Homo sapiens: one gene and its partners. The protein of the gene in region 2 purifies or fractionates together with the protein of the main gene of each other region. This does not show direct contact. Each region holds a gene or a part of one and is shown on either strand. Other genes may lie near its edges.

Region 1 (3,500 bases), on a different chromosome or scaffold from region 2:
CATCAGACTCAGTGCAGTGGAGGGAACTGAGAGGAGCTGGACTAGAGGTGGGGTCAAATAAGGCGGATCTGGTTGGAAGGCTGAGAACAGACTACCCCGGGGTCAGAGGCCAGACCTGGAAGAGGCTAAAGTCCAGTGAGACCATAAGGACATGGTGGCCCCGCCGGCCACCTGGTTCCTCCTGCAACTCCAGCCGCAGATCGTGCCACCGGCCATCACTGACAGTCACCTGGTCCAGAAGGAGATGGGAAGCACGGCCCGAGCCCCTGGTCACTGTCACAGACAGTAACCCCCGATCTAGCTGTGGGCAGAGATGCATAGCCCTGGGGTTAGAGCCCCATGTGGGCTGGGACTTGGAGGTGAGATCAGAGGGCTCAGAGGTCAGGAATATCAGAGGTCAGAACAGTGGGGTCAAGGTTATACCTGGCACAAAGGGCACTGTGCCAGGGGACATCATGTTGCTGATATGGGGTCAGGGGGCAGAGGATAGGACCAGGTGTTGTGGGTGGGTTGGTGCAGCTTGCATAAGAGAGAGCTATGCTGGAGCCCTGCACCTGCAGAGGATATAATGATGGAAAGAGAATCAAGGGCTAGGGTCCAGAGCAGGGTCAAGTGTGGTTGGGACACCTGGCAGAAAAGTATGCTGTGTGACCAACCTGAACCCACAAGAATGTCAGTGGCGGCCTAAGAGACTGAGAACTGAGGGTATAGGGGTGAGCAGGGTGGACACACCTGGCAAAGGAGCGTGCTGTGTGGCCCAGCCTGCACTTGCATCAGGACCCCCTGCGTTGCCCGTGTCCGAAATGCCAGCCCCAGGTACCATGGCACAGACACAGCCATGTCACTTCCAAAGTTCCAGCTCAGTGTGCCGTTGCCACGGAAATGGTGGGGATGGGCCATAGCTGAGTGGATAAGAGAAACAGGGTTACAGCCCCTGCCCCAGGAACAGATCTGACCCTGCAGGCCCCTCTGCCCCATGCTGCCCACTTACTAAGCTGACAGTCTTTGCCGCCGAAGCCCACAGGGCAGTCGCAGCTGAAGCTGCCCCAGCGCTCCGAGCAGAAGCCACTGTTCTTGCAGGGGCCTGAGTCACAAAAGTGTAGCTTGGCTTGGCAGCCTGGGAGAGGAAAGCACATGGCGGACATGAGAACAAGGGTTGGGGGGCACAAGTGCTGGACAGGACTTTAGTGTCCAGAGGGGCTGAAAGAGACCAAGATCTCAGCCCCATTTCCCATTTTCTTTCGATGAGTGGGGTTGGTAAGAGTCAGGCCCTAAAATCTGGGCTGTAGCATGGTGCTTGCCACCAAAGGAGACTGGCTTGAAGTCAGGTATGGAGTCCTCCACTTCCTCCCTATGATGGGGACAGGGCCATGGGCTAGGCTGGTGGAAGCTTCAGGCCTACCTGCCATGGTGCCATTATTTGCGACAAAAGCCGCCATGTCCACTCGGCGGCCATCAATGTGCAGGTCCCGCATACAGCCGATGAAGTCCTTATGGGATACGGGGAAGTTCTCGGGGAGGTTGGGGACACCTCCCAGAAGAAGAGGGCCCGTCAGGTCCAGGGACCTGGGGATCAGGGGTCTGGGTCATTGGTGGGACTGGGGCCAGAGTAGAGTTGCTCCTGGGGGGCCACAGGAAGCAGGGGGGTAGGACCCAGAGGGTAGGGTGATTGAGGGAGGAAAATAAGGCCGAGCTGTGGAAGGAGTTAGGATCTTACTTCAGTTGGGGTGCAAAGGGGCACCCGTGATGGGCCGATGGTCTGGGGAAAGGTAGGTGAATGGGGGTTGAGAGCTATGATGAAAGAATGAGGCATCTGGCTGGCTGGGGAGGGGATGGAGACGTGAAGACTCTGGGGGACTGGACATGAGATGAAGGGACTCGGAGGGGATGTGGGACATTAGTGAGACTGGGGTGGGGAGGTGGAGGCTTTGGAGGACTGCCTGGGGACTGTGTGTGGGAGGAGGGAGTATGGGGTGGAATACAGGATTGGGGGCTAGGGTGAGTAGGCTTTCAGGGTCTTTGAGAGGAGAGGGGAATCTTGGTGGTTTGGGGGAAAGATGGGAGAGTTTGGCAGGATGGGATGAGGAATGGGATGTGAAGGGTTGGAGTGGGCTTTGGTAGGCAGGGGACAAGGGGACTAGGGGGCAGGGGCCTCACTTCTTGGAGCTTGTTTGCACACCAGCAGCCGCGCATGAGTAGTTGCCAATCTCAGCACCAAACTGCAGAGCCACGGCCACATCACAATCATCCACGCTTAGCACAGCCACCTTGTCCTTGGAGGGGCCCTGTGCACCCCCTAGGGCATCTGTCCGGGGCTGAAGACGCAGGCACACCAGTCAACAGTGCCCCCAGTAACCCCTGAGGAGCAGAAGTCAGCATCCCAACTCCCCTCATACCCGATGCCAGGGATGGCCCCCACCTTGTTGTAGTATCTCAGATGCACTGTATGCCATTGCCCGTCACTCAAGCCCCCTGGAACTGTGGGGCTGACCACGGTGTTGGATTCACCTGGAGGGGAGATGCATGTGGAATCATCAGGAGCAGCGGAGTCGCCCCATCCCACCCGTCATATAAGCACAACCATTCCCAGGGCCACCCTGGATGCATCAGATCAGTCCCCCCACTGGTGACCACAATGGCTGGCTCAGAGTGCCTTTGAACAGACAGGAGAAACAGACTTCTTGGAGGGAGGGACCTTCCCACAGGGAATGGCCAAGGAGCTAGGTCTTCAGGGCTTGCATGGCGTGGAGTGTGTGCTCAGGTGCACAGTGAAGCAAACCTGAGGGGACTTGGGCCCTGCGTCCTCCAGCACACACGCACCCTTTCGCCGTCACATCCGGGGCACCCACCCGTGGAATATGTGAGCCGCACTTGGCCAGCCACGAGTTCCAGGGCCAGGAAGTCGTGCTTCTCGTTCAGGCGCCCGTTGTAGAAGAGCAGCCCGCTCTGCTGCACTGTCGCGAACCTGGGCGGGGTGGGAGGGGGTTGCGGGGGTGGGAGCGTCAGGAGCAGGGTACCACTTCACACCCACCATCCCTGCGAGGAGAAGGGGCTGGGGCGAGAGAGGAAGCGACGAGGGACGGCGGGACCGACCGGGGGGACGCGGGTGCAGCGAGGTCAGGAGACCCCGGGCGGGGCGTCAGGGGAGGGGCGGTGTCTCATGGGGATGCCAGGACGGGGCAGTCAGGAATCTGAGTCAGGGCGGGTAGGTGGGGGCGGCGGGGAGGCGCTCAGACACGGGGCGGGCACCTACGAGAGGGACAGCGTAAGGTGGAATCGCTGCCGCAGGCCGCGAAACATGACGAACGAACTGGGCGGGAAGGAGCGCGCAGCCACCTCGCAGCGCGGGCCCTCGAAGGCGCCGCCTGCCGGGCACTGGCAGCGAAAGCCGCCGTTGGGCGCGTCGGTGCAGGTGCCCCCGTTGCGGCAGACGCCCGGCACGCAGCGGCCGGCCTCGGTGTCCAGCTCGCAGTCCTCTCCTGGGGGCCAAGCCGCGGTCA
Region 2 (4,237 bases):
TATTCTCTTCCTTGGGTTGTGAGGGTCAAATGAGGTCACCTATGTAAATTACTTAGCACAGTGCCTGGCAGAGAGTAAGGGCTCAATAAATGATAGCTATGATTAGTTTTATGCTTTCTTATATTGGAATCAATGGACAGTGTTCCAGGCACATCTACCTGCAAGACTGTGTTTAGTCCTTATAAAACACTAAGCCATTATTATTTTCTAAAATTTATTATTTGTACGAAGCATATAGAGGCTTGGAGGGGACTTGTGACTTGCTTAAAATCACAGCTCCTAAGTTGGGGAGCAGGACTCTAACCCAAGTTATGAGAGTCTTTCTCTTGGAGTCCCCTTTGTCCCTCTCCTCACAGCCGCTCATCCATTCACGAACAGCTGTTAACACAAGAACGACTGTACTAAGTAATAAGGTCATAAAGTGTCAAGGGGCAGCACAGGAGAAATTCTGGATGAGGGATGTGGAAAGGCTGCAAGATGGCAATGAAGTTAGGCCTTCATAGTTGTTTGTGGGCTCTCGGGAGCTGGTGACTAAAGAATACGGTGGGTGAATTAAGGTGGGGAATGGGCTGAGGAGATCTGGCTTCCAGTCCTGGCTCCGCACTAGGTAGCTGTGGAATGTTGACAAGGTCGTGTCCCTTCTCTAGGCGTGTTTCCTAAGGGACTGGTGCAGCGGGATGGGAGGGGCGCAGGGTAGGGACCGCTTCCAAGGAGAGAGAGGACAGGCGGGAGGGGCTGATGCAGCTGGTCACTCCGCTGGAGTGGCCAGACTTCGCGGTGCCTAGGGCCGAGTTGAAGAAGAGCATGTAAGTCTGTTGTGGGCCCCTCACCAGCGCTGGGGGGCAGCGAGGTCACTGGGCAAGGATGCTCTGGGAAGTGACCTTGGTGCCCGGGAGGGGAGCACCCTGTTGTGATGCAGGCGGGGCAGCGCGGAGCCGGCGGCGCTGATTTCGCACTCTGGCCGCTAGAGGGCGCTGCCTTTCAGCCAAAGCCGAGTGACCCCCTACCTGCCCCGCGTTGGCCCGCGTCACTCCAGCCATGGGCCATCCAGCGAGCATGGGGGCTAGCCAGGGAAAGTCTAAACTAGGAGGGGAGATGAGGGGGTGCAAAGTTGGGCCTGGTGGGTCCTGGGGACGCAGCATGTACTAGAGCGGCACCTGGCCCTCAACAGAGGGGAGAGCGGGTGGTCGTGAGAAGTCTGGGAATTTTCCGGGCCCACTACACGCCAGGGGCGGGTCTCCCCTCTTAAAACGTTGTGAGCCCCAGCGCGGGCAGGGGGGAGGGTGCCCGTGGAGTTGGCATCCTCATCTTTGATGGTCCCCGGGGCTCCTGAGCTGCGCTGGTGGCCCCAGGGCTCGGTGCCTCTCTCAGGCGACAGCTCACAGACGGCGGGAAACTCTTCCCTCCCGCACCTTCGGAGGCGGTCCTGGAGTCTTGTGGACTCCTGGGTTCAAATCCAAGCTTTGTGTGACCAGCACATTGCTGGACCTCACTCAGCCTCACATTCCTCTTGTGTTTAAAACTACCTCATAGGAATGTGGTGACGGTTAGATGACACATAAAGCTTTGCCAGAGGTTTTCTGGGGAGGGTGGGGACAAGAGGGCAAGGAAGAGTCTCCATTTCCTCTGCCACCGGAGCCCGGATCTAACCTCTCAGAGGAGCTGGAAGGTCAGCTCTGAGCTCCACAAATACCTCTGTATACAGATCTCCCACGACACTGAAAAAGATGCCCAGAAAGATCTCATTTGCAGCTGTGAAGGGGCTTCTTTTTCAATCTCCACAACCCCAACTGCCTTAAAGTAGAACCAGACTTGTTAGTAGACAGAGGTTTGGGCTGGGGGGCCCTTGAAGCTCTTGTCTGAGATCTCAGGCTTCCTGCTCAACACACCAAAGCAGGTGCCTGACATAAAGGCGCCATGGACCTCTTTGGTGGTCTGGGAAGGCATATGGAGTCCCTTCTCAGAACAACATTTAAAAATTAATAAGATACATGGGATAATAAAGGGAACAAATTATGACAAGACAGTTGTCAAAACATTAGAAGAATGTGTGGTAGAGCAGTACACATGCTTCTTTAGATTTGACATCAGCCTAATAACTGTTGTAATTCTGTAGTAGTGCTGAGCGTTAAGGACATTTGGAGAAATCTATAAAAACTGTAATGAGATTTGAAAATATTTGTGTTTTCTATTGATGGCAAATTCTATTGTGGTTCATTGTCTACATTCATAACTGAAGCAAGTGCTGACTTTCAATTAAAGATTAGTGAAAATAAAGATGTATTTTTCCCCCCAATTCACAAATCCCATGAATAAATCTATTCACGGACCTCCAAGAGGTCCATGACGTGAACCACCTAGGACATGAACTTCCCCCGGAGGTGCCTCACAGGGCCAGCTCCAAGCCCCGTGGCACCTCCCGGCTTGTCTCAGGCCAATCCTTGAAGAGCTCCAGCAGATCTAAACTTTGGTAACTTTCCTCTGGTAATTTGAGGAATTCCTCCATTTGAGGAATGTCAGAATGGGGCCAGGATTCCTGAATGCCCATGGAAGAAAAGCGAGCATGCTGGTCTGGCGGGCAGAAATAACCTTCTCCCCAGGCTCCAGAGGGCAGAGGACATTTCCCTCCAAAAGGCAAGTTTCTCAGGGACCTCATGAGAAGCCTGTCCTCACCTGAGCAGTTCTGTCAACCATCCCATCCCTTCACCTGGACCCCAGGTCCCCAGCAGGCCTTTTTACCTCGAGACAGAAGTTCTTCTTTCTTGTTCTCAGACTGGGGGCTCACGTTGAAATGGCTCTCAGTCCTCAGATTGTCCTTGCATCTTGTTAAAACCCTATCTCTCCAGTTTCGTCATTGCTCACACTTTCATAGCTGTTATTATATTCGCTCTTTGAAAACCACAGAATGGGTTGTTAGAAGTCATAGATCTTCCGCCACCCCCACTGTGGATTTTTTTCTCCTTTCTCTCCTGCAACTGGTCCTCCATCTCCTTCTCCTTTCCTCTCCCTTGTTTTGTCTTTTTGGTGTTAGAAATAGACTAGGGTGCTGAGGGGGCTAAGAAAAACCACTTCTTAAAATTCTTTTCTTTACCCTGGGGAACAAAGATTTTGTATTTGCTAATTCATAATAAGGAAAGGACTGATGATAGAATAACTAGAAGATAAAAGGACAGAATGTCCTCTCAAGTATAAAGAAAGGTACCAAGTCTTCTCCTGAGAGTAGGTTTTGGTTAGAAGTAGGACAGAGAACACAGCTGCTCCAGGCTGAAAGGGAAGAAGGTCAGGGAGCTGTCAAGAAGGCTTGGGTGAGGGTGGTGGTGAGCAGGGGAGGCAACGAGTGGGGGCACCAAAATGGTCCTGATGTGGTGGGGGGAGGATGAATGACTGACCTTATCTTCCCACCCACCCATTTTTTTTCTTTTTCTTTTTTCTTTCTTTCCTTTTTTTTTTTTTTTTTTTGAGACAGGGTCTTGCTCTGTCACCAAGGCTGGAGTGCAGTGGGGCAATCATGGCTCACTGCAACCTTGACCTCCTGGGGTCGAGTGATCTTCCCACCTCAGCCCCTCAAGCAGCTAGGACCACAGGTGTACGCCACCACACCTGGATAACTTTTTATTTATTTATTATTTATTTATTTATTTATTTATTTATTTATTTATTTATTTAGAGATGGAGTTTCGCTGTGTCACACAGGCTGGAGTACAGTGGCGTGATCTCAGCTCACTGTAACCTCTGCCTCCTGGGCTCAAGTGATGCTCCTGCCTCAACCTTCTGAGTAGCTGGGATTACGAGAGCCTGCCACCATGCTGGACTAATTCTTGTATTTTTAGTAGAGACAGTTTCATCATGTTGGCCAGGCTGGTCTCAAACTCCTGACCTCAAGTGATCTGCCTGCCTTGGCCTCCCAAAGTGCTGGGATTACAGGCGTGAGCCACCACGCTCGGTTGATAATTTTAAAAATGATTTGTATGGATGAGGTCTCCCTATGCTGCCCCGCCTGCTCTTGAACTCCTGGGCTCAAACAATCCTCTGGCCTTGGCCTCCCAAAGTGCTGGGATTACAGGCCTGAACCACCACTCCCAGCTTCCCATCCATTTCTATTCTGTTCTGTTCTTCCTTGGTCAGTGATGGCTTGGGAGATTACAATTGTTCCTAAATTCTAGGGTTGTGCCCTTAGATGGCAGGAACATTAGTCTGAGAATTAGAAGCATTGGGCTCTAAGTCCTGCAAGGCTGGG
Region 3 (3,500 bases), on a different chromosome or scaffold from region 2:
AGTAGTGGTCAAGGACCACTTTTCTGTACCTGTTTACTTAAGAAGCAATATACTAAAAATTTTGAGTGCATCCCAACTGCCTTAACACCAAGCTGCCTGAGCCTCTGCCTAGCACAAGGGAACTACTTGTAGGTGGAAGGCAATGAAGAGGGAGGGCCCTGGGGCCACAAGCGCAGTTCAACTACTTGCTAGCTGTGTGAACTTGAGGAAATTACACAACCTCCCTGAGCCTCAGTTTAATGCTATTACACATGCAAAGCACTTAGAACACTGGCACAGAGTAAGTGTTCAATAAATGTTAACTGATTTTGCCCTCCTGATTATAACTCATATACTTATCTCCTCTCACCCCCGACCTGAGCACTGCCCACATGCCAACAAGCATGTGGCTTTGGCATCTTTCAGAATGCAAGCCCCTGGAGGGCATGAATCAAGGTCCCTATGTGTCCTCTCCTAGGGCTCATACTGTTAGACTGGAGCCACAGAAGTTTGGGAACCAGACTTAACACCTTTGTAGAAAAGTTCCTACCTAATGGTACGGATTTGCTCAAAACATTTTTGCTATATGAACTCCATATATGGTAGATCTGTTTATTGTGCTCAGATAATTTTTATCTTATAAATTATTAAGAAAGGAATATTTAATATGACTGCCTAATCCACTCGACATTTAGACTAAAAAGTGACCTACATTATCACTTTAAAGTTAGTCACAATAAATACAACTTACAATGTTCATAGATATTCAGGGTTAAAAACAACGAAACAATGTACTTTTTTTTTTATCAATAAAGAAGTTCAGTTCACAGATAACTGAACATAATATGAAATCACAAATGTACCTTCACTCCTCTTTTCAAGTAGGATCCTTTACAATTTCATAGTGCCTGTGGGCTCTACCCTTTGTAGCACATCATGGGTTTCTATTGTTGGTTAGTTAGCTGGTTTTTATCCTGCAAATGGTGACAGATTTGTGATGATCAACCCAATTCTCTCACCACATCTTCCCCACTGAGACATACATTTTTATGATGGCAGATACAGCCTATAACCAAGAAACTAAATAGGTCAAGTCCACCAGTCTATACAAAGAAATCTTATTAAACTAACCTATCAAATCTAATCTTATTAAATCCCAAACACTGGCAGGGCACGGTGGCTCACTCCTGTAATCCCAGCACTTTGGGAGGTCGAGGCAGGTGGATCACCTGAGGTCAGGAGTTTGAGACCAGCCTGGCCAACATGGTGAAACCCCGTCTCTACTAAACATACAAAAATTAGCTGGGCATGGTGGTGGGCACCTGTAATCCCAGCTACTTAGGAGGCTGAGACAGGAGAATCACCCCATTGCACTCCAGCCTGCATGACAAGAGCAAAACTCTGTCACAAAAAAAAAATAAATAAATAAAAAATCCCCAACACGGTACAGTAGTTTCCCCTCATCCATGGGGGATATATTCCAAGTCCCAGTGGATACCTAAAACCACAGATAGTACTGAGCTATCATAGAACTAACTAACATAGCACAGAGCACACTATATTTTTTCCTATACACACACACCTATGATAAAGTTTAATGTGTAAATTAGGCATAGTAAGTGATTAATAATAACTAATAATAAAAGTGAACAATGATAACAATATACAGTAATAAAAGTTATATGAATGTGGTCTCTCTCTCTCTTAAAATATCTTATTGTACTTTACTCACTTATTTTGAGACCTCGGTGGACCATGGTTAACTGAAACCTTGAAAAGTAAAACCGTGGATGGGAGGGTGGAGGCTACTATAAACAAATGCAATGAATATTAATTGACAATTAGCATCCAAGACTAATCAACCATTTTTACTTGTCACATTTTCAAGTCTAAGTTTATATTTTAGTTCACAATAAAACACACAAAATGAGAGAAATGTACTAGAAAGCAAAGAAGCACATCAGAAGCTACCCCCTCCCCTATGTGCCTTACTTAACCTGTCCTGCCACAGGTTCCTCTAGAGCCACACGACTGCCAGTCCTGCAGTCAAGGAGGATATTACAGCTGAGGGTTCATCCCGCATGACTTTCAGGGCCATGCAGAAAGTAAGGGCTCCATAAATATTTGTTGAATAGATAAATTATTCAAATGGGTTTTATTTTCGTAGCTTTTAAAAGATTCTTAAAAGAGTCTTGTGACTTCCTGCTTGTTGATTACAACTCCCAGTATTTCCATAAATTGAGACTAGTTTAAAAGGTATTTCAATACCACTAAGCAGTAACAGTCATTCTACAGGAGGTATAAAAGTAACATCAGCAACATAATCACAATACGTTAACTTTTTTTTTTTTTTTTTGTCTTGAGACGGAGTCTCACTCTGTCGCCCAGGCTGGAGTGCAGTTGTGCGATCTCACTGCAACCTCTGCCTCCTGGGTTCAAGCGATTCTCCTGCCTCAGCCTCCCAAGTAGCTGAGATTACAGGCATGCGCCACGACACCCAGCTAATTTTTCTATTTTAAGTGGAGATGGGGTTTCTCCATGTCAGCCAGGCTGGTCTCAAACTCCTGACCTCAAGTGATCCGCCTGTCTTGCCCTCCCAAAGTCCTGGGATTACGGGCGTGAGCCACCTCGCCCAGCCACACAATACGTTAACATTTTATATTTGAAAAGCAACGTACTGTTTACAAATGGCTTTCCCTCCACTATCTCATTTAATCATCATAGGTATTACACAGAGTACAACCAATTCTACCACTGTTGTTTTGATGGCGCAGAGGGAAAAAAGGTTAATTCCAGATCAATCATCACATGAGTCAAGACAGAAAATTTTGAACTGAAAGGAATCTAGAAGTTGATCTTGTCCAACCTCCCAGGAAAACTCGAGAAATGTGTTTTTCTCTTTCATTTTAACCTGACTATTTTCTCCTACCTTATCCAAAAAGCTCTGCACATTGTGTTACTAGTTCTACCTATGAGAAGAAAGAGTAAGATGCTGGTACTGCCTGTTGGGACAGCAGCTAAATGTTTACCCAGAGACTTGGCAGATGTAAACATGGCCTTTAAACCCCATCATGGAAAGGGGAAAAGTTGTGTGCCCTTCTAGGAAGATTCACTCATCAACTGGAAAACAGAGATTTTTATGTTTAAATTGCCACCCTGGCTAAAAGGATTATATCTTGATCATCTTCAAGTTAAGAGTAAAGGATACATTCTGCATTCCCCTGAACAAAACACCTAATCCAAACAGATTTTATCTTGTCTCAGTTTAAAAACTGGTGAAAAAAAGCAGAATTTTCCTTTCCATTTCATATTCATCTGATTCAACAAATAAAATATCGGGCCCTAACTATTAATACATGCCAGAAACCAAGTCAGGCACCGCACCAGGTGATACATCTAATTGATTAGGATTAGCAAATTTCTATTCTTTCTCTCGACTGAAATCAATAAAACCCTGTCTTAAATATTAAAGTACTATCCCTGTCCCTCACCTTGACTGTCACTTCTGAGAACATTTGTTT
Region 4 (3,959 bases), on a different chromosome or scaffold from region 2:
TCCTGGAATGAAGAAAAAAAAAACACCAATGCTGTGGTTGTTTCTACATTTCTATAGCGTGGTGTTTAAACACTTAGCAACTGCTCTCCTGCATACACTTGTGTAGAGAAGTGGTTAAACAATATTCTCATCCTTCTTTTCCCAAGGAGAAAACCAAAAGCATACCAACCTTAAATAACACACACAGAGGGCAATCTTGAAAGACCTAAAATGACATATCTAGCAAGAAGCTGGCAGCCAAGCTTGACGCCTGCCTGCCTGCCTGTTGGTTCACTAGAAGAAAGTGGTTCTCAAACTTTAATATGTATACCAGTCACCTGAGGCTATTGTTAAAATGTAGTCTGATTCAGCAGGTTGCGGGGGAGAGGGAGAAGAGCCGAGAATGTGCAGGTCTAAAAAGCTCCCAGGTGATGCCAATGTTTCTGGTCTCCAGACCTAGACCTCTAGCTTAGACCTGTGCTGACCAGTACGTTAGCCACATGCGGGTATTAAGCCCCTGAAATATGACTAGATAAGCTGTCAGTGTAACATGCCGATTTCCAAGACTTAGTTAAAAAAAAAAAAACTAAACTATCTCAATGATTTGTACAGACCACATTGAATTAATATTTTGTGTACTTTGAGTTAAATAAAATGTACTAGTAGGGTTACTTCCCTCTATATTTTACATTCCACACGTGGCTCGCATTATAGTGCTACTGGACAGCGGTGCCCTAAACTAACAACCGTCTCCATTCTGAAGCTTCCACTATTGTGAGACTTTAAGAATAAAAGCAACACCTCTCTTCCCATAGGTGGTTCGAAAGCACACCTTTTGTTCCCCAACTATCTACCAGAAATAAAACGAAAAAACAAAGATTTAAAAAACAATAAAATTGAGTCCTTTCACTTCTGCTTAAGCGCCACCTAAGCCACTGCTTTTGTCTCCCTCCGGTTCCCACGCTCCGAGATCGTATCACCCACAGAAAAACAATAACTAAAAAGCGGTCTCCATCCCTGAAGCCAAGCTGGGAGAGTAGCCGAAGGTCGCGCTTCCTGGCCGCCAAAACCGAGGTGGAGGAAACTTGGTAGTCAGCGAGCTACGCCCTCTCGGCTCCTCCTCCTGCTCCTCCTCCAGGGCCGACCTCTTCAAGATGGCGGGCGCCGGAGACTAGCTTCCGCTTCCGGTGTGAGCGGCCCGGCCGGGGGGGCAAGATGGCGGCGGCAGTAGGGGTTCGTGGCCGGTACGAGCTGCCGCCTTGCTCCGGCCCAGGCTGGCTCCTCAGCCTTTCCGCCTTGCTGAGTGTGGCGGCACGAGGGGCCTTCGCCACCACGCACTGGGTCGTCACGGAGGACGGGAAAATCCAGCAGCAGGTAGCGGCCGGGGCGTCCCTCTTCTCCCGTGCCCGCCCTCGCCCCGGGGGGATTACCCTGCTTGGCCCCTGGCTGTTGGGCTCCGCGCGGCCCCGCCCCCAGCCTACCCTCACAGGGAGGTGGCACCGCGACCTCGGACTCCCTGCATTCGGACCAGGCAGGCACTTCCCGCTCCCCACTTGTCTCCTGGTCCTCGTTTGGCCCCCTAGAAGTTCTCACCCTTCCACCTCGCGGGCCGCGCGCCGCGTGGGGAAGAGTCGCCCAGCTGCGGGAGACGGGCCCTACGGACCTTTTTTTAGCTCGGGGTTTAGAAATCACAGATTTCAGGATTCCTGCCTTTGGTGCCTCTCGGGTTCACGCGTCACCGGCCCTCCCCGAGGAAATAGAAAGCAGGTGGCAGCTCCAGGGTGTGCGCGAGTCCCATGGTATGACAGCTTCTGGACCCCTAGCCTGTGGACCATTCGTGCTGCTCCCCTAGTCTCGTCTACCACATGGTGGATTTCGTTTCTGGTTGTGTTGGTTTCAGCTTGTACCGTTACTCAGGTCAGCAGTGGCTCATTAGAAACAACATAGAAACACTCCCCTTCAGAAGGAATGCTTGAAGATGCCGCTGGTGGCGTTGCCTGCATCTTTTCAGCTGTTACTGCCCTCGTTTCCCAGTGCACTTTGCTTTGTTTCTTTACCTAGTTCTTGTGACCCAGCCTCGCATGGAGGATATGCGATTTCCTGGATTCTTGTATGCCTGAACTAATTCCTCAGAGGCGAGACTGCTTTTCTTATATAACTTTATGATTGCCTGCGTTTTGTAAATGCTGCTGATGCCTAACGAGTGCGTGTGTGTGTTCCGCTACAGAATATTGGTAAACTTACTGACTTCGAACACTTGAGGACAATCTTGAAGTGTCTAGCAAACATTTAGAAAGTGAATTGTGTGCCCCATGCAATTTAGCCCACTGATCTAAAACGTTTTAACTAGTGTGGTGGGAAATTACTGGTCCTTTGGATTGTGTGTAATGAATCATGATAGGAACACATTCCAACGTTTAAGGTGAGGTTTAGATTTAGATTTGCCGTGTAATGTAATTGCAAATTCTATCTCAAGTAAGTTAAGTATAACTAAAAATCCGCCTAGGTATTCATGAGTGGTTTTCAGCATATCTAAGAAAAGACCGTGTTCCTATTGGGTAACGTTTTCTATATGACATACATAAAGAACAGTTTCCTTTTCATTGCCATACTATCTGAGACTTTAAATATATGTGTATGTGTTTCAGAAACCCAAGAAAACACTGTAAGACCATATGTGAGTGCTGGTTGCTTCCACCCTTCTTTTGTTTCTTGATAGTGGTTTTCCCTGAGGTCTCTATGAAGACGTGGAATTAAGTCACTCCTGCTGCATTTTGGGGAGCCTTTCTCCTGTTGGCTCTTCTGCAATATTGTTTTTGGCCACAGCTATTTATACTCTATGACATTGACTTCTCCTTCCCATTTTGGTGTCCTACCACTCAGCTGAAAAAGTAGCCCATCTAAAAAGTGAAAGCTGGTAGAAATGTTTTATGTATATACTTAACATTGCAATGGGAAAGTAGAGTCTGATTTTTTTTTTTTTTTTAACAAATTCCTTCTTTTTGCACTTTGGATACATATGTATTAATGGGGGAAGGCAGGGGTTACTGGAAACTTGCCTCAGAGAAGCAGGGAAGAGCTGAAGAATCTTTTGGATCTCTGCCAAGTCACTGCTGAGCTAAGTAATTAGGCTTAAAGTTTAAAAAGCAAGATTTCTCTATTACATGACTTTTTAAGTGATCCTTTTCATTGAATTTTCCAATACTTTGCTATACATAACATTTACAATGTTATGTTCAGGCAGCCACAAGATTTTATGCCAGAAGAAATAAGGTTGGTGTCTGCAGTGTAACAATAAGAGGCCAGGGGAGGAAAGTTGGATTTAATCTGAAGAAAAGGCACCACATATAAATAAAGTAAAAGAATTGGGTGCTGTGGTGAGCTGCCGAGTTCCACTCTGATAGCTGATTGTGCATGACCCATGCTTCCCTTCCTGGCCATAATTTGTATGCAGGTAGAATCCAAACTATCAATTTAGATCGTGATTAATTATAATATTTGTATATACTGTACTTAAGGACTTGAAAGATCACATTAGTGTATGAAATCCATATATATTGCAGATTTGTACATTCAGAAACATAATTAAAAGCTTAGTATATACAGATGCTCCTCAGCTTATGAAGGGGTTATGTGCTGATAAACTCATTGTAAGTCGAAAATACTGTAAGTCAAAAATGCATTTAATGTACCTACCAAACATTGTAGCTTAGCCTAACCTACCTTAAACGTGCTCACAATACTTACATTAGCCAAATTTGGGCAAAATCATCTAACAGCATCTTTTACAATAAAGTATCAAAATACCTCATGTAATTCATGAATACTTCACTGAAAGTGAAAAACAGAATGGTTATATGGGCACTCAGTACAGTTGCTACCAAATGCATGTCACTTTTGCAGCATTGTAAAGTCAAGAAATTATAAGTTGAACCATCGAAAGGTGGGGACCATCTGTATACTTTGTCCTGACATACCAA
Region 5 (3,500 bases), about 54 Mb from region 2:
ATGGGAGGTGAGAAGAAAAGCACCAAGAGCTAAAACACATTAGCCTCAGTGACAAGACTAAGAGTTATCAAAGATTATGCAGCATCAGGAAAGTCTTATTCAACACTCTGTGGAGGTGTAAGGTGTGAGAAACAGGAACTAAGACCTGCCGGGGCTGATCTTCTGGCAGTGGAAAGGAGATTTCTTAGTTAACACCTAGGTCTCACAGGACCACTAATCCTGAAACTAGCAGTAGGCATCCCGAAAGGCTAGTTGCTTCTGACAAGTGCTGAGGACAATATATTCACCCACACATCATCCAAATGCTAGGCTTCGCACCTCCATACCTTTCCCACACTAACATCCCTAGTTTTCTCCTCCAGCAGAATAATGCTAGGCAGCAGGGACTACATTTCAGTTCAAAGCATGGTAAAAAAATTCATATAACAAAAACCATAGCACCACTACCAGGTATGATGCTGTGAGCCCATAACCTGGGACCATTCAGGCAGGAAAAGGCTTTACCAAAAACACAAGCTGGGTCCCGGAACACTGGACCCAAACCCTTTCATGTCAGCAAAAACTGCCTAAATGCTCTTCTATTTGCTCTCTGAGAAACAAAAAGAAGCCGAAGGAGGAAAAGGCCTTTAATCCTAAAATTATTCTTAATTTCCAATACAGAGCATTTGAGAAAAATCTGAAAGCCAACAGAAAAACTAGCAGATTCTTTAAAATGTGTGTCTACAGTCCTTTCTCCTTTACCCTCTGCAAAAAAAAAAGCAACCCAACTCCCAAATGATCATTTTTCTTGGCTTAATTTCACTATTTTTTGTGATACATAATTGGAAACAGACTGCTTTTTCCTGGCTTTAGAGAACAGGATCTTCAGGGTTATAAGAGTTGCCAACTACAGAACCTCAACCTTAGCAAAATTTTTTTGCAAACCTCTTACCTATCTACCTACTTGAAATACATATTAACTCCAAAGAAAACACGTAAATCCCCTATTATTATGCAAAAGTGGATTTTCTCCCAACAAATTAGACACTCCTCTCCTTTTCCTAGCCTACCCATTGAAATCCTGCTCTGTGTTCAGCTATGTCCCATTCAAACATGACCAAAAGCCCTAACCAGCATGGTATCTAGATGGGATACTTTTTGGAAGCATTTTCTTTTTTCTTCATATTTTCTTTTTTTGTGTGTGTGGTGGGGGTAGGGACAAGGTCTCACTCTGTCACCCAGGCTGGAGTGCAGTGGTATGATCATGACTCACTGCAGCCTCGACCTCCTGGCTCAAGCCATCCTCCTGCCTCAGCCTCCTGAGAAGCTGGGACTACAGGCACACACCACCATGCCTGGCTAATTTTTAACTGACATTTTCAGGAATTTAGTAGAATTGGTTCTACAGGAAAGCTCCTTATTTAGCCCACACAGTGAATGAAATTAAAACCTGGAACGTCTTAGAGAACAACCACTCTAACAATGAAATAAAGATGCCACAAATTGAAAAAAGATATAAATATGGAAAAATGTGAAATGCAACAAGTAGGTCATCCTTCCCCTAGCTCCTGTGTCAAAAACATGATACATCCAATGGCTGTACAGCTATTGTAACGAATAATGAGTATGACAGCTTAAAAGCTCAAAGACAAGTGTCTTTACAAAATGGGCTGTTGGCATAAGTATTTTTTTCAGGATTCAGATGATTTATCACGAATACATAACAAGTAGCAATCTCTCTAAAGTCTCGAAAATAAGAAAATGAATAGGAATGTCTATTCAGAAATGCTTTGGCTAAAAGATAGACCAGCAATAGGAAACATGCCCATTTAGATCAGAAACTTCTCCCACACACATAGGGAAGACCTTACGCTGCAATGATGCAAAATGTATGTAATGAGTCAATGGTGCTTTCCCTCAAAGTTAAATTTAATTTGCCAGCCAACTGCACAAAATCTAATATAACAAAATGAGATACTTATTCTTTATGGAGACTCAGAAGAGTTTTGTTTTAAAGAAAAAACCATAAAAGAGATAACTCACAGCAACACAGTGAGTATCTTACAAAAGTACTCAGGGTACCACATGAACACAAGCCTTTGTGATTAGAATCTAAGTTTTTCACCTCAAATAACCTTCCAGAATGAAAAGAAAAAAAAAAAAAACACACATTCTGCTCCAGCAATTATCACACAGTTAGTTAATTATAAAATGAAATTTCCAAATAGTCTCCAGAGTATTTTTGCATCCAAGGACCAATATCACACTGTCAAAACAATAAATCACTAAAAATGCTAACAAAACGAATACTCCCAAAAGGGACCCTTTTCACTTGCCAGATGGAATTAAGTATTCATCAAGTTTCCATTAGCAAAATAGTATGATACAAATTTAAAAAGAAATCCAGAGTTCTACTAGACCCTCCACCTGGCCCATTTGATGTTCTCACCTATAAAAGGTAGTGAGTCATGCTTGTGAAACTGCAGACCTTCGCCCAAGGCAATCTGATCCACAGGAAAGCTCAAGGACTAGTATCTGTAAAGATCATTTTCTAAAGATCATTTTTCAAGGACTAATCAACTTAAATGTGTTTTTACAAATGATCCATCAGCAATTTTACACAAAAAACCTGACCTTCGGCATATACCAGAGAAATGAATTATGTGCCTGGAAGGACAGAAAAGCAGGTGTTTCGTCCTCCTGCAAACAACACCCAACTCCAAAGGCCCCCTTCACTAGGAGTCCAATGTCCAGAAAGTATACGCTTCTTTATAACCATTTTTTAAGTAAAGATAGAGCTAACATTTCAGACTTAATTCTAAATTATCTTGGCAACAGTTTAACATTAAAGTGGGCTTGCGGGCATGGTGGCTCACGCCTGTAATCCCTGCACTTTGGGAGGCTGAGGGGGAAAGATCACTTGAGGCCAGAAGTTCGAGACCAGCCTGGACAACATGGCAAAACCCTGTCTCTACTAAAAATACAAAAATTAGCCAGATGTGGTGGCCCCCGCCTGTAATCCCAGTTACTTGGGAGGCTGAGGCACAATAATCGCTTGAACCCAGGAGGCAGAGGTTGCAGTGAGCCAAGATCACACCACTGCACTCCAGCCTAAGCAACAGAGCAAGACTCTGTCTCAAAAAAAAAAATAACCATTAAAATCTAATTCTAAAAATCAACTTTGCTAGGCTCTACATATAACTGAATCCTCTTCCCAGGATGGAAGAAGATTTCAACATAAAAGAACCACCACCACAAAAACCAGACATTAGGCTCCCTGCCCTGCCCCCCGACACCAAAAAATTATCTTCAGCAGGGCACATTAGGATGGCCTGAAGGCATGGTTCTGGGGCTCTTGTTCTAGACCTTCCATTTTAAATATGGTCTCTATCCCTCATAAGCAGTTGTCAGCCTATTAAGTCTTCATCTTTGGCCTGAAAAACTGAAGAATAAAAAATGAAGAATAAGTTCCAAATGACAGTAGCCTCATGCAGAATTTATATCAATGTTGTTTCAAAAAC
Region 6 (3,500 bases), on a different chromosome or scaffold from region 2:
AGATTCTCCTGTCTCAGTCTCCTGAGTAGCTGGGATTACAGGCACCCACCACCACACCTGGCTAATTTTTATATTTTTAGTAGAGATACGGTTTCACCATGTTGGTCAGGCTGATCTTGAACTCCTGACCTTGTGATCCACTGGTCTCGGCCTCCCAAAATGCTGGGATTACAGGCATGAGCCACCGTGCCTGGCAATTTTTGTATTTTTTAGTAGAGACGGAGTTTCACTATATGTTGGCCAGGCAGGTCTCGAACTGCTGACCTCAGGTGATCTGCCTGCCTCAGCCTCCCAAAGTGCTGGGATTACAGGCGTGAGCCACCACTCCTGGCCCAGAAATTCTTAAACTTTAACATTTCCTCAACATCTCCATAAACTAGGTGGACATTTCTGTTTTTTCTCATTCTAGTTCCATCTTCTCCCTTTATTTTCCCCTCTGATGCCACTTCTCGTCAAAGCAGTACTGAGGGAGAAGGTCAAACTCTTTCATTTTATTATATATTTGAACAAAAACGTATTTCCAATATGTATACACTCTTGCATCTCTTTGAGAAATTTAATATACAAAATCTAAACTTAAAAAACAGATAAATGTAAGAGAGACAAATTGTTATTTACTTTATAAAAATAATTTGCCACATCTGTTTAAATAAAGAGTGTATTTTCCCTAGTTGAAAGCATTTAAGATGTGATTTGTTTTGAAAAATGTCATTTACACTCAATGTTTAAAAACATATCTATTGTATAAAGAACAATCTAGGTTTATTCACTTGGATTATTATAGTAACCACTGATGAGCTGTATGAAAGTGATAAATCTCAAAATACCTGCATCTCCCTCTTTCTCTTTGGATATGAGGTAAAATATGTTATTAATACTACCTATTTAACAAAAATATGCAGAATGTAAACTGAACACAACATGTGCACTGCTGAATACAACTTAGGAATAAAGTGATTATTGCAAGTTATTACACTTACAAAATGTACACTTCCAAATAAAAGAAGATTATCTAATTATCGTATAATTCAACAAGATCTAGGGAATTGATCTGGCAATATAATATGTTTTGTCTTACATTTCCCATTCAATTGTTCAATTGCCTAGATTGCCCAATTTCCTCATTGTAGCAGTTGTCTTCTGAATATAAATATAAGTCCCATTGTTAATCCAGGGACTTCCAAGCAGATGATGTCACTTCAGTTCACCATCTTACTGACTTAGGATCACACATACATTACGACTTATACCTATTTAGCTGAACATCACTCAGGTGAGGAAGCTAACTTTTGAAGGGTCAGACACCACATTTATTTAATATGCTCCATGAAAAAATTAGTCCAAGATAATAGTAGCACTCTTAGTATACTTTGCCAACAATGACACGGGCCTGAAGAACCCAGCACATGCCACCAAAACGACCAACGATGTAATGTGTACTTAGTTCAACCAGACTGTGAATGATCTGCTATGTCTACAGGAAAGATGGAACGCTAGATTACTTTAAATAGCTCTGACTTAGAGAACATACCTATGAAGATGAGGAATTAAAAAATCTTATAAAGTAGCTGTTCACATTAGTACCAGTATAGGAGACAGCCAAAATCTAAGTTATAAACAGGTAATGAAAAATCCTCAAGGACTAACTGAACCATGTTTCTCCCTACCTCACTTGTCAACATTCCCAAGTTCTCTCTTTACTAACTGCAGTTCTTTCAGGCACTTATAATCATCAAATGCAGTTCAAAAAGAAATATATCCAACAACAAGAATATTAAAAAAGAATTTCAGTCTTCTGTATGATTAGAAACTGTTTCAGCCCAACAGTCAGGAATAAAAAGGATTTAAACTAATAAACCATTAACTGAAAAACTGAGAGAGATGTAGAGAAATGTGAATTTAAATGTAAATTCTGCCATCAGGTAAATATAATATAAAGCTAGTAGTTATAAAGAGGAAGTTACTCTAATTACTTCTAAGTTGCTAGGCCAAAAATTCCACAATAATAATTCTACCTCCCAATTGTTGTTTTTCAGAGGTACTGAGTTTTGCCTAGTGCTTTGGTGATGCTTCATAATGTTTACAAGACACCATGCGTCCACTCCATGGAAATAATCATCAATGAGAGAAGCAACATCATCCTAATCAGTTGCACAGTTAAACAAAAAAAAAAAAAAAAAAAAAAAAAACGACATCACTGAAGTCAAGAAGCACAAAATGACAAATGGTCAAGTTCCAACAGCTAAAAAGATCCAAGACATTATGAGCTTTTAATGAGTGAAACATGCCATGAGAAAGAGACCTTCTGTCAATAAATCCAAATCCTTGTTCACTAATTAAACCATCTTATACAGTGTCTGAATATGTAGACACCAGACTTCAACATTTCTTAATTATATTCAATTCCAGGCATATTTTTCCATTTAATTGACATTCTGAAATGCCTTTACAGTCCTATCAGATAGGTACCAAATTCTCAAGAGAGATTACCACACACTTCTGAATTCTTATTCATTTGATTGAAACTGTTATTAGCAAAGGTTTTTTTTTTAAGTGGAAAGTGTGGGAAAGATTCACACCCCATTCTATCCATAACATGGGCGATGTTAAAGTCATCTGCATTTGGCCCACTTTCATGTGTACATTTCTTTGCAGTGAAGTTCTCCATAGCCAGGCCAATCTGAGAAAACCCTAGCTGCAAAATCCACCCTAGCATGGGACGGTACCACATGAATCACATAACACACTGCTCACCCAATCACAACAGCAACTGCTATCATTAAGCCACCACTTAGAACCAACAGAGAATTTCAAACCACAATCAAAAATAGATTTCAGAGGTCCAAAATATTGATCACATAGACTTAAAAAATCAACAAAATGTCATGTGTGATAAATGCTCTAGGTTTCAAAAAAGACCAAGCTGATCCTGCTACCAAGATATAGCCTCATTTTGCTTTGAAAGAAAACACACACAGACTTACATAGAATTTATCTGACAAAAAAAAAAAACCCTGATATTTATACTGTCATTAAGCACATTTGTCACTAAATTTAATCTGTGTCATCTGGCATACTCTTAGATGTTTACAATTATCAAATAATGTTCAATGATATTTAGTAGCATTAATAATTTGGGGCTTATCTCAAAATATAAAACATCAATAGCTGCTCCAGAGTGCTCACTTTTTGACCTTCCATGGTACTGAAAAGGCTACAATTTTTTTCAGATTGTTTGGAATTTAATTTAGTTGAAGTCCTGAAGTTACAATTAAACTTCCACTTAACCTTTCATAACTGTGCCTCATTCAACAGCTGGGCTTATCTCCAACATCTCAAAAAAGAAAAGAAAGAAAGAATTAACTGAAATATTATTTGCAACTGCTCTGAAAAGTACAAGTAGGATCAAGTCATAGAGAACGTCCAAGGTAAAAGTCTGCCTTTTCACTCACATTCTGGAAGCTAATGTTACTTTGTAAGCCATTTTTTACAAATTTTTT
Region 7 (3,500 bases), on a different chromosome or scaffold from region 2:
TGTAAAGGGAGCAGAAGCAGGTCCCAGGCCGAAACCAAATGATTTCCACAGTGCACACTTGGCCTCTGGTGACTGAACTTTCTGGCACCTATTTTGGGTCTTCAGAGGCTCCTTTGCCTTCCTCTTGGTTCTCAGCTATGTCCTGGGAAACTGAGATTATCAGAGAAGTGACTTTCAGATAAGCCAGGTGCCCCCATGGCACTGACTCCAGCCCTGGGTCTGCCCCTGTCCCTGATACCCCAGGTCCGATTGGTCCCCAAGTCCTGCAGAACACTTATGAGGACCCCTATATCCAGGGCTCCCACCTTGTCCCATTCCTTATCATCTCCCACCTGAGATATTACATTCTTGATCTTAACTCCCCTGGCCTTGCTCCATCCCTGCAATCACTCATTCCATACCCCTTCCAGAATCATCCTTCAGGGTACAAAGTTATTATATCACATCCCTGCCCTAAAACTTTCTCTGGATGCCCCATGACCCCACCATCACCATTACCCAAATATAAATCCCTAAGATACTCTGCCTGGCTTTCAAAGCATCCATCCTCACCCCACCCCACCCCACTCCCCCTCCAGCCTCCTCTCTGATGTGAACACTCTACACCCGCTAGATTTGGGCACACCAGGCCAGTTTCCACACCCATGTTGTGCCCCATCAGTTCTCTACTGTGCACTCTCAGCCCAGCCTTGGCTGCACAGTGGCATGCAAGCTCCTCCAGGAGGCCCACTGAGCTTGCCTCTGTGCTTCCTCTGCACATCTGCACATCCTCTCTCTAGTACTGCTGCGAGCTCCCCAGGTCCGGCCCCATCCTGTCTCATCTGTGGGCCCTGTCAAGCCTGATGTGCAGCTGGTGCTCAGTCAGTAGGGGTGCTGGGAGGAGGGGTGCTGGAGGAGGGGTGCTGGGGGAGGAGTGCTGGCTCATACCCTGAAATCCATCCTGGTTGATGTCACCAATGCTGGCCACAGATAAACCAAAGGCAGAGCCACTGGGGCCATGAAGAAGGAGTGAGGGGTGAGCAGGGAAGGAGGTTCCCGCCTGGTTCATGAAGACATAGATGGCACCCCCTACTTCCTCTTTCCTCTCGAAGTAGTAGGGGGCGCCCACCAGGAGGTCCTGCCACCTACACAGGAGAGGAGGGAAATGGGAGTGTGAGGTCAGCCTCCAATATGCAGCATAGTTCTTGTTTGACAGGTGTGACTGTGCCAGGGCACAGGGCTCTGCAAATGGCTCTTCCGGCCACAGGTCATGGGTGGGAAGGACATGTGCATGGGAAGGACATGGAGATGCCAATATGACCCACCAAATAGAAGACATATGTCATGGAGACGCCATGCAGGCACAAATCAAACCCAAACAATCCACATCCACTGGAGCATACAAATCCCAAGCAGAAACAAGCAAACGCAGGGGTCCCACAAATGCCATGTGCAGGTGCTCAGACTCCCATAAAGCCTGACTGCAAACCTCTGCAAACAACATGCAGACAGCCGCACAACTGCAAATCCTCCACTCCCCTCACCTGGCTTAGGTAAGCCTTCCCCCGCCCATCGCTCTCCCTGGCCCCAGAGGATGTCCCTAGATTCTCACCCATCATTGTTCAGGTCTGCCAGGGCAATGGCGCTGCCAAAATAGGCGCCCACCTGCGAGCCCTCCAGCACCTGCCTCCTCCGCAGGTCTCCGCCTGCCTCCTGGCTCAGCAAGAACACCGCGCCCATATGTCGGTGCCGTGGGGCACCTGTCACAATGGTGATGTTTTTGGGGTGCAGGATGAAGCTGCCTACCTGCATCGTGTACCCTGGGATAGAGGGAAGATGTTCAACCAAGGTCCCAGTCAACTTCGTCTCTTTCTACTCTGGACCCATCTCCCTATTCCCTCTCTTGCCCCCCACCATGATGTTCTATCCCACTATTCCAAGTAGGGCAAGAAAGTAGACTCCAGATGGCCAGCAGCCATGGCCCAGTTCTGCCTGGACACTGGACTGTGAGCATCCTGAAGTCAAGAACTTTGCATCTTGGGAGCTTGGAACAGGGCCTGGCATACAGGTGCCGGCCAATCCGTGTGTGCTAGTTTAACTAAATGCCATTAGTCACAACTGCACTCTGGCCTCACCTTTCCACCAGGGACTAAGCCCCCTTCCCCTCTACCACTTGATGGGCTACCACTACTGTACTCACCAATATAGAGGTTTCCTTGGTCCTCTGGGTCCTTGTAACTATACTCAGATAAGTCCCACTCCTTGCGCTGAATCATGTAGCTGTTTCCTTCACAGGGATTGAGGGAGGGAGAGTAGGGAGTATAAGTCACCACCGGTTTCTGGTTTCCTCTACCATGTCCAGCCCACCCCCACCCCCACCCAACAAGGATAGTAATAACCCCTTTTATTGGTGAGCATTTTGCCATTTATAAAACACATCCTCTTTAACAATTCTTTTTTCCTTTTTTTTTTTTTTTTTTTTTTTTGAGACAGTCTTGCTCTTGTTGCCCAGGCTGGAGTGCAATGGTGTGATCTTGCCTCACTGCAACCTCCGCTTCCTGGGTTCAAGCGATTCTCCTGCCTCAGCCTCCCGAGTAGCTGGGATTACAGGCATGCGCCACCATGCCCGGCTAATTTTTGTATTTTCAGTAGAGACAAGGTTTCACCATGTTGGCCAGGCTGGTCTCAAACTCCTGGCCTCAAGTGATCCATCTGCCTTGGCCTCCCAAAGTGCTGGGATTACAGGTGTCAGCCACTGTGCCTGGCCTATTATAACAATTATTTGAGGTTAAATTATGACCCCCATTTTGCAGATAAGTGAGGCTCAGGAGGGAAGTTGACTTGCTCATAGTCCCATGGGGAGCTGGTTGTAGAGCCATGGCTAGAACTTAATCACTCAGGCTCCTGGATATTAGATGCTAGATGGCTTTCCCCACTCTCTAGACACTGAGGTCAGACTCCACACCATTATCTCTTTCTGGTCCTGACCCCAAACTCGGGCTGCCTAGCTGGACCCTGCACCCAGGGCTGCTGCTGGAGAGTATCTGTGACTTTGCCAAGGTGCTACATGACCAGGGGGTGGGAGGCAGGACCAGAAGAGGGGGCAGAGGCCTCAGCCTTCGGTGAGCCCAGAGCTGTGACTATGCCTGGGGCTACATGTTGGTCAAGAGGAGATTCAAGGCTCCTCTGCCTGCTGATTCTACAACAATAAAGGTTCAGTAAGGGAAAAGGGGTCCCTATTGCTACAACCTGTGTGATGGAGGGAGGCAAAGAGATGGAGGGAGTATAAGCTGTCAGACACCCCCTGTGAGACCATGTGTAGTGTGGTCTTTTACAAGCATGGTCTTTTACAAGAAAATACCCTTCATCCTCTAAAATGATGGTCCTATATATATCAACATGAAAAAGTGCCCATGACTTTTGATAAGAGAAAGAGAGAAAGTAGCGATATTTATTTAGTTTTTTGAGATAAGGTCTTGCTCTGCTGCTCAGGCTGGAGGACAGTGGCACAATCGCAGCTC

The links.
Region 1: the proteins of CD160 (region 2) and CELSR3 purify together in Homo sapiens (affinity purification with mass spectrometry; one large-scale study listed by BioGRID and IntAct). This does not show direct contact.
Region 3: the proteins of CD160 (region 2) and ARL15 purify together in Homo sapiens (affinity purification with mass spectrometry; one large-scale study listed by BioGRID and IntAct). This does not show direct contact.
Region 4: the proteins of CD160 (region 2) and TTC17 purify together in Homo sapiens (affinity purification with mass spectrometry; one large-scale study listed by BioGRID and IntAct). This does not show direct contact.
Region 5: the proteins of CD160 (region 2) and TGFBR3 purify together in Homo sapiens (affinity purification with mass spectrometry; one large-scale study listed by BioGRID and IntAct). This does not show direct contact.
Region 6: the proteins of CD160 (region 2) and FAT3 purify together in Homo sapiens (affinity purification with mass spectrometry; one large-scale study listed by BioGRID and IntAct). This does not show direct contact.
Region 7: the proteins of CD160 (region 2) and ITGA3 purify together in Homo sapiens (affinity purification with mass spectrometry; one large-scale study listed by BioGRID and IntAct). This does not show direct contact.

Annotation. Positions count from the first base shown.
Region 1 is NC_000003.12:48,652,887-48,656,386, forward strand, and holds part of CELSR3 (cadherin EGF LAG seven-pass G-type receptor 3 precursor), read right to left. Parts: intron 3,480-3,500; coding exon 3,254-3,479; intron 2,966-3,253; coding exon 2,850-2,965; intron 2,509-2,849; coding exon 2,420-2,508; intron 2,316-2,419; coding exon 2,158-2,315; intron 1,567-2,157; coding exon 1,403-1,566; intron 1,118-1,402; coding exon 992-1,117; intron 903-991; coding exon 733-902; intron 302-732; coding exon 116-301; intron 1-115. UniProt on the Homo sapiens protein: Receptor that may have an important role in cell/cell signaling during nervous system formation.
Region 2 is NC_000001.11:145,718,062-145,722,298, reverse strand, and holds the start of CD160 (CD160 antigen precursor), read right to left. Parts: upstream 2,801-4,237; 5' UTR 2,740-2,800; intron 1-2,739.
Region 3 is NC_000005.10:54,304,074-54,307,573, forward strand, and holds part of ARL15 (ADP-ribosylation factor-like protein 15), read right to left. Parts: intron 1-3,500.
Region 4 is NC_000011.10:43,357,761-43,361,719, forward strand, and holds the start of TTC17 (tetratricopeptide repeat protein 17 isoform 1 precursor), read left to right. Parts: upstream 1-1,159; 5' UTR 1,160-1,194; coding exon 1,195-1,353; intron 1,354-3,959. UniProt on the Homo sapiens protein: Plays a role in primary ciliogenesis by modulating actin polymerization.
Region 5 is NC_000001.11:91,876,152-91,879,651, forward strand, and holds part of TGFBR3 (transforming growth factor beta receptor type 3 isoform a precursor), read right to left. Parts: intron 1-3,500. UniProt on the Homo sapiens protein: Cell surface receptor that regulates diverse cellular processes including cell proliferation, differentiation, migration, and apoptosis.
Region 6 is NC_000011.10:92,231,318-92,234,817, reverse strand, and holds part of FAT3 (protocadherin Fat 3 isoform 1 precursor), read right to left. Parts: intron 1-3,500.
Region 7 is NC_000017.11:50,069,610-50,073,109, reverse strand, and holds part of ITGA3 (integrin alpha-3 preproprotein), read right to left. Parts: intron 2,267-3,500; coding exon 2,180-2,266; intron 1,800-2,179; coding exon 1,592-1,799; intron 1,125-1,591; coding exon 928-1,124; intron 1-927.